Linked DNA regions of Homo sapiens. The protein of the gene in region 1 purifies or fractionates together with the protein of each later gene. This does not show direct contact. Each region holds a gene or a part of one and is shown in the gene's direction. Other genes may lie near its edges. The genes, in order: GPRASP3, KLK15 and SLC25A25.

Region 1 (3,729 bases):
TTGTTTAATTCAGCGAAGGACTCAGCTTTTTTCCGTCTCTTTCTTCTGCCATTCACAATATCAACTTCCGTCCTAAGGCTGATAGCTTGATGGCTACAACAATTCCAGGAGGTAAGCAACTTCCTGAGGAAGAAGAAAAGACAATCTTTTCTGATGACTTTGTCTTATGAATGAGGACACTTTCCTCAGAAGTCCATCTGTAACCTTCCCCTAATGTCACATTGAGTGGAATTTGATCAATGCCTCTTCCTAAACAAGAGAGTACCAAGGGGATAGATTATCCGTAGACCAAAGAGACTCACTCTTGGAAATGGAATTAGCCTCTCTGTGACATGTGACTAAAAGGAGGAGAAAGTCAGTAACCTGCAGTGGCAACTATGCAAAAATGGCATCCTTTTAGTAAAGGGTTATGGTAAGCAACACAGAATATACAAAGCACTGAGGCTACAGCACAAAGAGCACAGTGACACTGACTTAGCAATTATGACCTTTAAAAACCATGTAGTTCTCATCTATTCTTTCTTGCTTTCTCCAGCCCACTCCATAATAGGAATAGATCAGAAATTTTAAAAGAACTAGAAAGATCTGATATACACATGTTGTGCAGGATATCAAATAGTTTTCTCAGTATACACAATAATCCTGTAAAGTAGTTAATGCCAGCTCCCTTTTAAGGATGAAGAAACTGGGTTATAAAGACGTTAAGTACCTTTGCTAAAGTTACACAAATAGTGACAAAGTCTGTATTCAGACTTTGGACTGTCTGGCTCTGAAATCTGGGTACTCCCAACTCTTCTGTACAAACTCCCTTTAGAATGTACTCCCAGGGCTCAGAAACTAGTTACTCTAGTCTAAGCAAGCACTTAACAATCATTAGGCAGTTAATGTAAACTATAGATTCTAATAGTATCATGCACTGCCTCTTGATGGTGGTGGTGGTGGTAGTGACATAGACAACTTTTCTCTCCTAGCATTAAGTTACAGTTCCTCAGACTTCATTACCAATAATATATATATTTTTCAATTTTTAAAGATTTTTTGTAGAAACAAGGTATAACTGCATTGCCCAGGCCAGTCTTGAATTCCTGCACTCAAGTGACCCTCCCACCTTGGCCTCCCAAAGTGCTGGAATCACAGGCATGAGCCATTGTGCATGGCCATTACCAGGAATTTTGATTCAGGAGGTCAAAAGTCTAATTTGCATTGCACATTACAAATTTTTGGGCTGAGATGTCAGGTTCAGGGAGCCCCATAAATTTCCTGTACCTGGGAGTGAAAAGAGCTAATATTTATGGAGCAGCTGGGTTTTCCAGGGCAACCTAATTCCCAGATGTGATGTTCAGCAGAAAAGAAGCAGACAAAAGCAATGTGCACTGCTTTTTTTTTTTTTTTTTTTTTTTTTTAAATAGAGAGGGGGTCTTGCTATGTTGCCTAGGCTGCTCTTGAGCTCCTGGACTTAAGCGATCCTCCCACCTTGGACTCCCAAAGTGCTGAGATTAAAGGTGTGAGCCACCACACCCAGCCCATTTTAAATTTTTTATTTTTTATTTTTCACTGCTCTTTAGCTTCCCTGTTAAAACCCATAGCCAGACTTCCAGTTTCAGTTCCAACATGTAAGAACTTGTAAGTCATTGCTCCTGTACTTACAACCAGAAAAAAATCTGAACAAACAGAATCAACAACATTTCTTAGATTCTTCAAAGAACTGAGGCATAGGACAGTTGACTACCCCAAATTCTGAAGGCAAATCCAGAGAGTCACAGCCTATTTCTTCTTTCATAGAACAGAAACTGCTAGAGACATAAATAGGTAAGAGCACTTAAATGTAATTTTGATGAATTGCTGGAGACTGAGTGTGGAATAATATGAGAGTGAGAAACCCCTGAGGATCTGCAGTCAGGGAGGTCCCCACACTTTTGTGGGCATTACTTCCAAGAAACCCACCATATTCTTGCAGTGAAGGGCCTCATGGCCCCTGCAGTGGGAAGGGAACTGTACTTTTGTGAAATACACCCAGAGCCTTCTTCATTTTTTAAAAAAAAAGCCTATTCTGTGGTGGAAAAGACTTTATCAGAGCCTTATCTCAGCTGAGGGAAAGGCGTTTCTCCTATTTCAGCCCCCTTTAGGTTTCTAGTCTCATGTAAGGGAGAGAAAGGCGCTAAAATAAAACTCTTATGAAAATCAAAGCCCAGGGACACAGGCCCACAAAAGACTGAAATTTAATCATAATATTATAGAACACTTCCTCTCCTCTGCACTTCACCACCATGCTAACAAGGCTTTATTATAATAATAGTGGATAACAGTGAATAACAGTTAAAAGAGCTGCAAAATGTAAACTCTCCCTGAGAAGAATATTTAGGGAAATGCTAGAAATCAAAAATACTGTAACAGAGCCCAGGCACAGTGGCTCACGCCTGTAATCCCAACACTTTGGGAGGCTGAGGTGGGTAGATCACCTGAGGTCAGGAGTTCAAGATCAGCCTGGCCAACATGGAGAAACCCCATCTCTACTAAAAGTACAAAAATTAGCTGGGCGTGGTGGCGGGTGCCTGTAATCCCAGCTACTCAGGAGGCTGAGGCAGGAGAATCGCTTGAACCCGGGAGGTGGAGGTTGCAGTGAGCCGAAATTGTGCCACTGCACTCCAGCAAATGAAGAATGCCTTTGATGGGATTATCAGTAGACTGGACACAGTTGAGGAAAGACTCAGCAAGCTTGAGTAGCAGTCCCCAATCTTTTTTGGCACCAGGGGCAGATTTCGTGGAAGACAATTTTTCCATAGACTGGGGGGCGAATGGCATGGTTTCAGGACAATTGAAGTGCATTACATGTATTATGTACTTTATTTCTATTATTATTACATTGTAATAGATAATGAAATAATTATACAATTCACCATAATGTAGAATCACTGGGAGCCCGGAGATTGTTTTTGTAAAGCTAGATGGTCCCATCTTGGGGTGATGGGAGGCAGTGACAGATCATCAGGCATTAGATTCTCATAAGGAGCATGCAACCTAGATCCTTCACATGTGCAGTTCACAATACGGTTTGTGCTCTTATGAGAATCTAATGCCACTGCTGATCTTCCAGAAGGCGGAGCTCAGGCGGCAATGAAAGTGATGGGGAGTGGCTGTATATACAGATGAAGATTTACTGGCTAGCCCGCCACTCACCTCCTGCTGTGTGACCCAGTTCCTAACAGGCCATGGACGGGTCCAGGTCCGTGGCCTAGGGGCTGGGGACTCCTGAGCTTGAAGATAGGTCAATAGTGTAAACTAAAAAGTATGTAAGACATGTCTCAATTGATTTAGAAGTTTATTTTGCCAAGGTGAAGACATTCCCAGAAGAAAAGAGCATGGAATCACAGAAACAGTCTGTGGTCTGTGCCTTTATCCAAAGATAATTTTGAGGGCTTCAATATTTAAATGGAAACAGCAGGCTAGAGGGGAAGAGGGAGGGTACAGTAATCCACATGATGCAAGGGAAAAGGAGCAGAAACAGGAATAGTCAATTCTGTATTCCTCTGGCTCACAGTAAATCAGCACTTTACATAAGGTAAGGAAAATGTGTAATATCTACCTGTGGAGATATTTAACCTTTTATCTGTAGCTATCTGCTTAGGAACAAAAAAAAAAAGAAAGGTATTTTATTGCATGACTCAGCTTTCAGCTTAATATTTTCCTTTTGGCATAGTGAATCAGGGTCCTGGGTTTTTATTTTCTTTT
Region 2 (3,122 bases), on another chromosome or scaffold:
ACTCAGCTGCCACACACCAAGAAATTAATTGTAACCTGATGCCTCTCTTCTGGAGAAATTGGGGGGTGGACTTTCATTAACGTTCTGCCACAAATGACCCTCACTCCTGGGGGCCCCTGAGACCCCCACGCCTCCAGCCTCCCCTCCGGCTCTCTCTGTGCACTCACCTACCTGCCTCGCGCCTGCCTGCTGCGCCCAGCTGGGGCCTCCACCTTCCTCTGGCTTGGACTGGCCAGGTGCAGCCTCGGTGCCCAGCTGTTCAGCCCGTACCCTCCGCCCTTCGGAGGACGACCTCACCCTTCCTTTGTTAAGCCCCTTGTCCACCACATCCGCATTCCCCTGGTCTCACGGGGGCCTTTGGCCCAGTTCCTGACTGTGATGGGGAGAGTGTGGGCATTTGGTCTGGCTGTGCAAATCCTGCCCCTGTGTGGGTGGGAGTGTGCATGGCTTCAACCTTCAGGGGATGCATCCACATTGCCCAGTGGAGAGGGGTCCTGGTCCTGTGACCTTGAATGTCTCTAATCATGTCCTTAAGCATAATGCCATTCTGTGTGTGTGTGTGTGTGTGTGTGTGTACATGCACGTGTGCAGTGGGTATACAAGGCCCTGTATGTTCACATCCTCTCCACATGCATGAGCCAGATCCCCATATGTGAAACCCAATCAGTGACTCCACAGATCTGGCTTGGGGGCTGATCTAGAGATGGATAAATATGTCCTGCCCTGGCTGCCTCTGGCTTCAGCTGCATGTCTTTGACCTTGAATGCCCAGCCCCGTGTCTGGGTGCTGCCCCAGACAGCAAGTCCACATCTGAGTGTTGGCCTTCTGGGTTGGTGTCTGCAGCTCTAACTCTACAAAATGTCTTGTGGGTGAATCACGGTTTTAACCTTGACTTTTTTTTGTTTGTTTGGTTTTTTTTGAGACGGAGTCTCGCTCTGCCGCCCAAGCTGGAGTTCAGTGGTGCAACCTCAGCTCACTGCAACCTCCGCCTCCCAGGTTCAAGCAATTCTGTCTCTGCCTCCCGAGTAGCTAGAATTACAGGCACGCACCACCACGCCCAGCTGATTTTTGTATTTTTATTTATTTATTTATTTATTTTTTAGTAGAGACGGGATTTCACGATGTTGGCCAGGCTGGTCTCAAACTCCTGACCTCAGGTGATCCACCCACCTCGGCCTTGGCCTCCCAAAGTGCTGGGATTACAGGCGTGAGCCACCACACCTGGCCAACCTTGACTATTTATTATAGGTAATTCTGTGCAGATGTCTGACTTATGTTGGCCATCTCCAGGATGGACCTGAACTTTCACACGTATGTCCCTGTGACTAAATCCAGGTGTCATTTGCAAAAAACAACTAATATTATTAAGTAGCTACCAGGGCTAGGTATCACTCACCATACATACACACATGCACACACACACATACACATTCCTACCTCATCCTTACAACAATCTTCATTTTACAGATGAGGAAACAGAGGCACAGACAGGTCGAATAACTTACTCAAAGTTTCACAGCTAGTACATTCGAACCCAGGCTTAAGGACCCATCTTTGTCCAGACCCTGTATGCAAGTGTCTGTGACACTGGATGCCAAGACTCACACTAGAGATGTTGAATTTAGGTCTGAACAATATCCAATTCTGTGTGTGTGTTTGTGTGTGCATGTGTGTGTGTGTATGTATTCATGTCTTAACCATCCATATTCATATACACATATGAACATCTGTGCTGTGATTCTTTTTTTTTTTTTTTTTTTTTTTTTGAGATGGAGTTTCACTCTTGTCACCCAGGCTGGAGTGCAATGGAGCAACCTCCGCTCACTGCAATCTCCGCCTCCCGGGTTCAAGCGATTTTCCTGCCTCAGCCTCCAGAGTAGCTGGGATTACAGGCACCCGCCACCATGCCCAGCTAATTTTTTGTATTTTTGTTAGAGACAGGGTTTCCCCATATTGGCCAGGCTGGTCTCGAACTCCTGACCTCAGGTGATCCACCCGCCTCGGCCTCCCAAAGTGCTGGGATTACAGGCATGAGCCACCGTGCCCAGCCTGTGCTGTGATTCTTGAAGCTGCAACCCATGTGCATGCAAGTGAATTTCAGCTTCCAGTCCTGTCCATAGCTGTACCTAAGTGTGGAAGCTGGATGTGCATGTATGCATGTCCATGACCTTGTATAGCCACATCTGGGACTCATACTGCACACTGAATTTGGCTGACATGTCCAGACTCTGGGGCCAAGGCTGGGTCACACATACTGAGTGGCCACATGCGTTTGACGTCTGTGACAATTTGGTGACCGTGAATGACTGGTTTCAAGTGACCACCTGTCTGAACCTGTATCCAGTGCCCCTGTCTCCACCCCCAACCACAGAGGACTTCTTGCCCTCTGGTCTGTTCCCCTTCCTCTCTCTCCCAGAGTCTTATAGCAAATGGGGTGGGGGCTAGAGTTCTGGAGAAAACAGGCAGCGGTTGTAAATAAACAACAGGGCAGGCGGAGCATGGTGGCTCACACCTGTAATCCCAGCACTTTGGGAGGCTGAGGCGGGCAGAGCATTTGAAGTCAGAAGTTTGAGACTACCCTGGCTAACATGGTGAGACCTCGTCTCTACTAAAAATACAAAAATTAGCCAGGTGTGGTGGCGGGCACCTCAGCTACTCGGGAGGCTGAGGCAGGAGGATCACTTGAACCCAGGAGGCGGAAGTTGCAGTGAGCTGAGATCATGCCACTGCACTCCAGCCTGGGCAAAAGAGTGAGACTCCGTCTCAAAAACAACAACAACAACAAACAAAAACAGGGCAGGGTGTCTTGAGAAGTTAGGGGAAAGGCATAGGCATATAGTAGTTAGGGCAGGGTGCAAGGAAGGTGTAGGAGGCAATGTAAACGTCCCTGTCCTCAGGCATCCTCTACCCCTTCTCTTAGCAGCCCAGGATGGTGACAAGTTGCTGGAAGGTGACGAGTGTGCACCCCACTCCCAGCCATGGCAAGTGGCTCTCTACGAGCGTGGACGCTTTAACTGTGGCGCTTCCCTCATCTCCCCACACTGGGTGCTGTCTGCGGCCCACTGCCAAAGCCGGTATGAAGGCAGGGGCTCAGGGTCCTGAGGGAGCCTGGTTCGGGGGGA
Region 3 (3,500 bases), on another chromosome or scaffold:
CCACCTCGGCTTCTCGGTTAATCAGTTTCCCTGCTACCCCCAGTGCCCACTGTGCACCAAGGGGGATTTGCAGATCCAAGGAAGGAGACAGAAGGAGGCCCAGGCCCTGTGAGGCAGAAGCAAGCACTTTGAGAATGCGTTGAAGCCAGCTGCGGTGAGCACACCCTCTGCTCTGGGTGTCTGCGACAGCACCCACCCCAGGGAGGCATGTGGCTCACCCTGGCAGCAGGCGGCTGGGTCCCAGAGGGCTCCATGCCTGATGTTCGCCTCCTGCCTAAATGGCTTGTCCACTCTATTTCCATTCCTGTTAGAGATTTGGAGCAGTCACCCTATAGGTGATTTATGTCACTCTTGTCTGAGAGCACAGATGTCCACAGGAAGTTAAATGTAACCTCAGCAGATAAAATATGTACCTGCATCTGTCCTACATTCCAGCCACGCCCCTCACATTAGCCTTTTGATCGCGCCAGGTCATGGGGTATCTGTTCAGGCCTCCCTGCCCCTGACACCTTTGGCAGCTGAGGAATCACAAGGCGCTGTCAGTAGTGTGTCTAAGAGAGAGGCGCGGTGGTGATCCTTTGAGGACGCGAGCTAGCCAGTGGGCCATCCATTTCCAAACCCCAGCTGGCTGTCAGTTGATTTCTCCCAGTGAGAAATCCGGAGGACACAGGAAGACTATACCATCTTCCTTGGGAGATTCTCGGTCCCAGTTTTGGGTTCCGGATTCAGGGCGTTGCTGAGTTGGGGTGACTCACTTTCATCCCCCATGTTCTGAAGGTTAGCCTTGAGGGTGGCGGCAGGATGTGCAGGGAGGCGGCTTGGGAGGACCACGGCCCAACTTGCATCCCGCCCACCACTTCCCTAGCTGTCTGACCTTGTGTAAATGTTTAGGCTCTCGGAACTCCTGTTTCCTTCTCTGTAAAATGGGGGAAATGACATTTCCTACCTCCTAGAGCTGTTTGCGAGGGGGGTAAGTGGGTTGCTAGAAGTAAAGCATTTGGCACGCCCTGCGGCCGGTGCTAGGTGCTGGGGAAATGTGTGCTCTCGTGGAGCTGTCCCAGTTGCCAACCATTAACAGCTGCTGAACAAAGCCCACCTCCTGGGAGGCGGGGGCGGGGGGGGTTACTTTTGGAACCTCATTGCCAAGGAACAGTCTCTCAAAGCCTTCTTGGGACACTAAAGTGCTTTTCAGTGAGTGAGCGGGAGAGCCAGGGCAGCTCTATCACCTGGCTTCCCTGAGAGCAGGGACTGGCAGTACCATCATACACATGCCCTTGGCTCCTTACACTTCCCCGGCCTCGGGTGCTGTGGCAGAGTCTGGCTCTGCCCCCGATTTTCACCTGCCCACCAAATTATTCTCGGACCAATGCCAGTTTTAGGAGAGAAACAGCGAGCTGCAGAGTTCCTGTCAGAAACTGGACTCCATGGCCATCCCCAAGTCTCAGCAGGGAGCATGTGTGGTTGAAGCCTGGGTCCAGGGACCCAGGGACGGCGCTGCAGCGAAGCCACCCTGCTCACCCTGGCTGTACGGCACGCAGGTCTTCAGACTGAGAAAGTGCCCAGCTGTCCCTGTCGGCCTCTGTCCGGAGGGCTCTTCCCAGGCTCCTTGTTTCCTCTCTGCTTGAGAGGGAGACAAGATTGGCCCTTGCCTGGGTTCTGGCCAGCACCTGGGGTTCTAGGTGGTGGCTCTGGCATGTAAGTCGATTGCCATGGTGGCTCTGAGAGTGGAGCAGAAGCATCTTGGGTCCTTGGGGCCAGCTCTGCTCGCAATTAGTGAAGTCATTGCCTGGGGATGGGGCCCCACAAGGGACAAGGAAAGGCTGGTCCAGGAGCCAAAAGACAAAATGTTACCTTTCTTTTCTAGAAAATTGTACAAGCTGGAGATAAGGACCTTGATGGGCAGCTAGACTTTGAAGAATTTGTCCATTATCTCCAAGATCATGAGAAGAAGCTGAGGCTGGTGTTTAAGAGTTTGGACAAAAAGAATGATGGTAAGTGTTGCCTTCAGAGCTGTGGCCGGTCCAGCCTCGGGCCTCCCCGTGCGCCTGGCTCCTGCTCACGGCCTCTGTTCTTGCAGGACGCATTGACGCGCAGGAGATCATGCAGTCCCTGCGGGACTTGGGAGTCAAGATATCTGAACAGCAGGCAGAAAAAATTCTCAAGAGGTGAGTGCTCAGCCAGCCTCTGTGTTTGGTTTAAGTGTGATGAAGGGAAGGCTCTGAGACTAACCCTCCGATGCCATTCCCTGGGCTGACCCTGAACTTGGCCTTCTCGTGGTTTGAAAGGATGAATAAGTAACCCCTGTGGGAGGCCAGCCCCTCCCCAGGGTTGCAGGCCTGCTTTCATTGGAAGAATCACAGATCACCTGGAATTTTGCCCATCGGCCAGTGGCCCATGAAGGGAAAACTAATTTGGGGGTGGTTCAAATAGGTAAAAGGCCAGCAAGGAGCACCTGTGCGTGTGGAGGGGGCGGGGCGGGGCGGGGGGCTCACACTGCAGCCTCGTTCCCAGGTGAATTTCTTCCCCATGCTGGTAACTTGCACTTAACACTTTAGTCAGAGGCGCTGCCCCAAAAGATAGCTCCCTGGTGCGGGGCGGCTGCCAGGAAATCTCATGGAACAGCCCTGGGAGTTGCCGTCTGTCCTGGCTGGACCTTCCGGAAACCCTGCGGTCTGAACACTGGCTGGTCCTCGGGGACAGCAGCCCTGGGCTCAGCTGCTGTGGCGGGCTCGTCTCGTGCCGTGCTGTGCCCCTGTCTCTGGGTGTGTGCTTGCTTCACTAACATGGCTCCGAGCACTTATGCGTGTTGTTTCTGCTCTCTCCTCCGCATCCTTTGTCTGTCTGTCAGAATACGAACGGGCCATTTCTGGGGCCCTGTCACCTAGTAAGTATCCATGTCGCTCATGACTGCCTCCCTTGACTTCCATGCCTGATCAGAGCGGGATTCTTGTGGGCCATTATATTGCCATTGTTGTGCTAAGTGGGGTGTGGAGCCCCCTGCTCTTTCTCCTGGGGGCAGAGGCACCTCGTGTGGTTTCTGGGCATCCGAATGCCTGCCCTTGGCTCACTGGGAGGTGGGGGGATGCAGCTGGCGGATGGGCATGTGGGCACGTGGGCAGCCTCGCCTCTGTCTTGCAGCATGGATAAAAACGGCACGATGACCATTGACTGGAACGAGTGGAGAGACTACCACCTCCTCCACCCCGTGGAAAACATCCCCGAGATCATCCTCTACTGGAAGCATTCCACGGTGAGCCCCACGTGCCCAGGGCCCTCATCTGCTCCCAGGGACCCTTAGCCCAGAGTCACCCAGTCGTCCCCATCCCAGAGTGCAGCTGGGGCTTTCCAGCCACCTCCTCTTCCACAGGAGACTGTCCCCTCTTCTGCCAGCCCAGTAGAGCTGTCCGCATGTTCCCCATGTTCTGGCACTCCAGCCAACCTGAACAGCCCCATCGTTCACACACACAGGCTTCCTCTTCCAGGAACACCCTCCGTCCCCA

What was found.
Region 2: the proteins of GPRASP3 (region 1) and KLK15 purify together in Homo sapiens (co-immunoprecipitation; one large-scale study listed by IntAct). This does not show direct contact.
Region 3: the proteins of GPRASP3 (region 1) and SLC25A25 purify together in Homo sapiens (co-immunoprecipitation; one large-scale study listed by IntAct). This does not show direct contact.

What each region holds. Positions count from the first base shown.
Region 1 is NC_000023.11:102,727,193-102,730,921, forward strand, and holds part of GPRASP3 (G protein-coupled receptor associated sorting protein 3), read left to right. Parts: intron 1-3,729. UniProt on the Homo sapiens protein: Survival and differentiation promoting protein that plays a role in the regulation of neurosynaptogenesis. Induces phosphatase PP2A activity which results in APP dephosphorylation and inhibits BACE1-mediated processing of APP.
Region 2 is NC_000019.10:50,827,614-50,830,735, reverse strand, and holds part of KLK15 (kallikrein-15 isoform 4 preproprotein), read left to right. Parts: intron 1-171; exon of another isoform or gene 172-206; intron 207-2,920; coding exon 2,921-3,074; intron 3,075-3,122. UniProt on the Homo sapiens protein: Protease whose physiological substrate is not yet known.
Region 3 is NC_000009.12:128,099,232-128,102,731, forward strand, and holds part of SLC25A25 (mitochondrial adenyl nucleotide antiporter SLC25A25), read left to right. Parts: intron 1-1,864; coding exon 1,865-1,991; intron 1,992-2,077; coding exon 2,078-2,165; intron 2,166-2,848; coding exon 2,849-2,884; intron 2,885-3,138; coding exon 3,139-3,250; intron 3,251-3,500. UniProt on the Homo sapiens protein: Electroneutral antiporter that most probably mediates the transport of adenyl nucleotides through the inner mitochondrial membrane.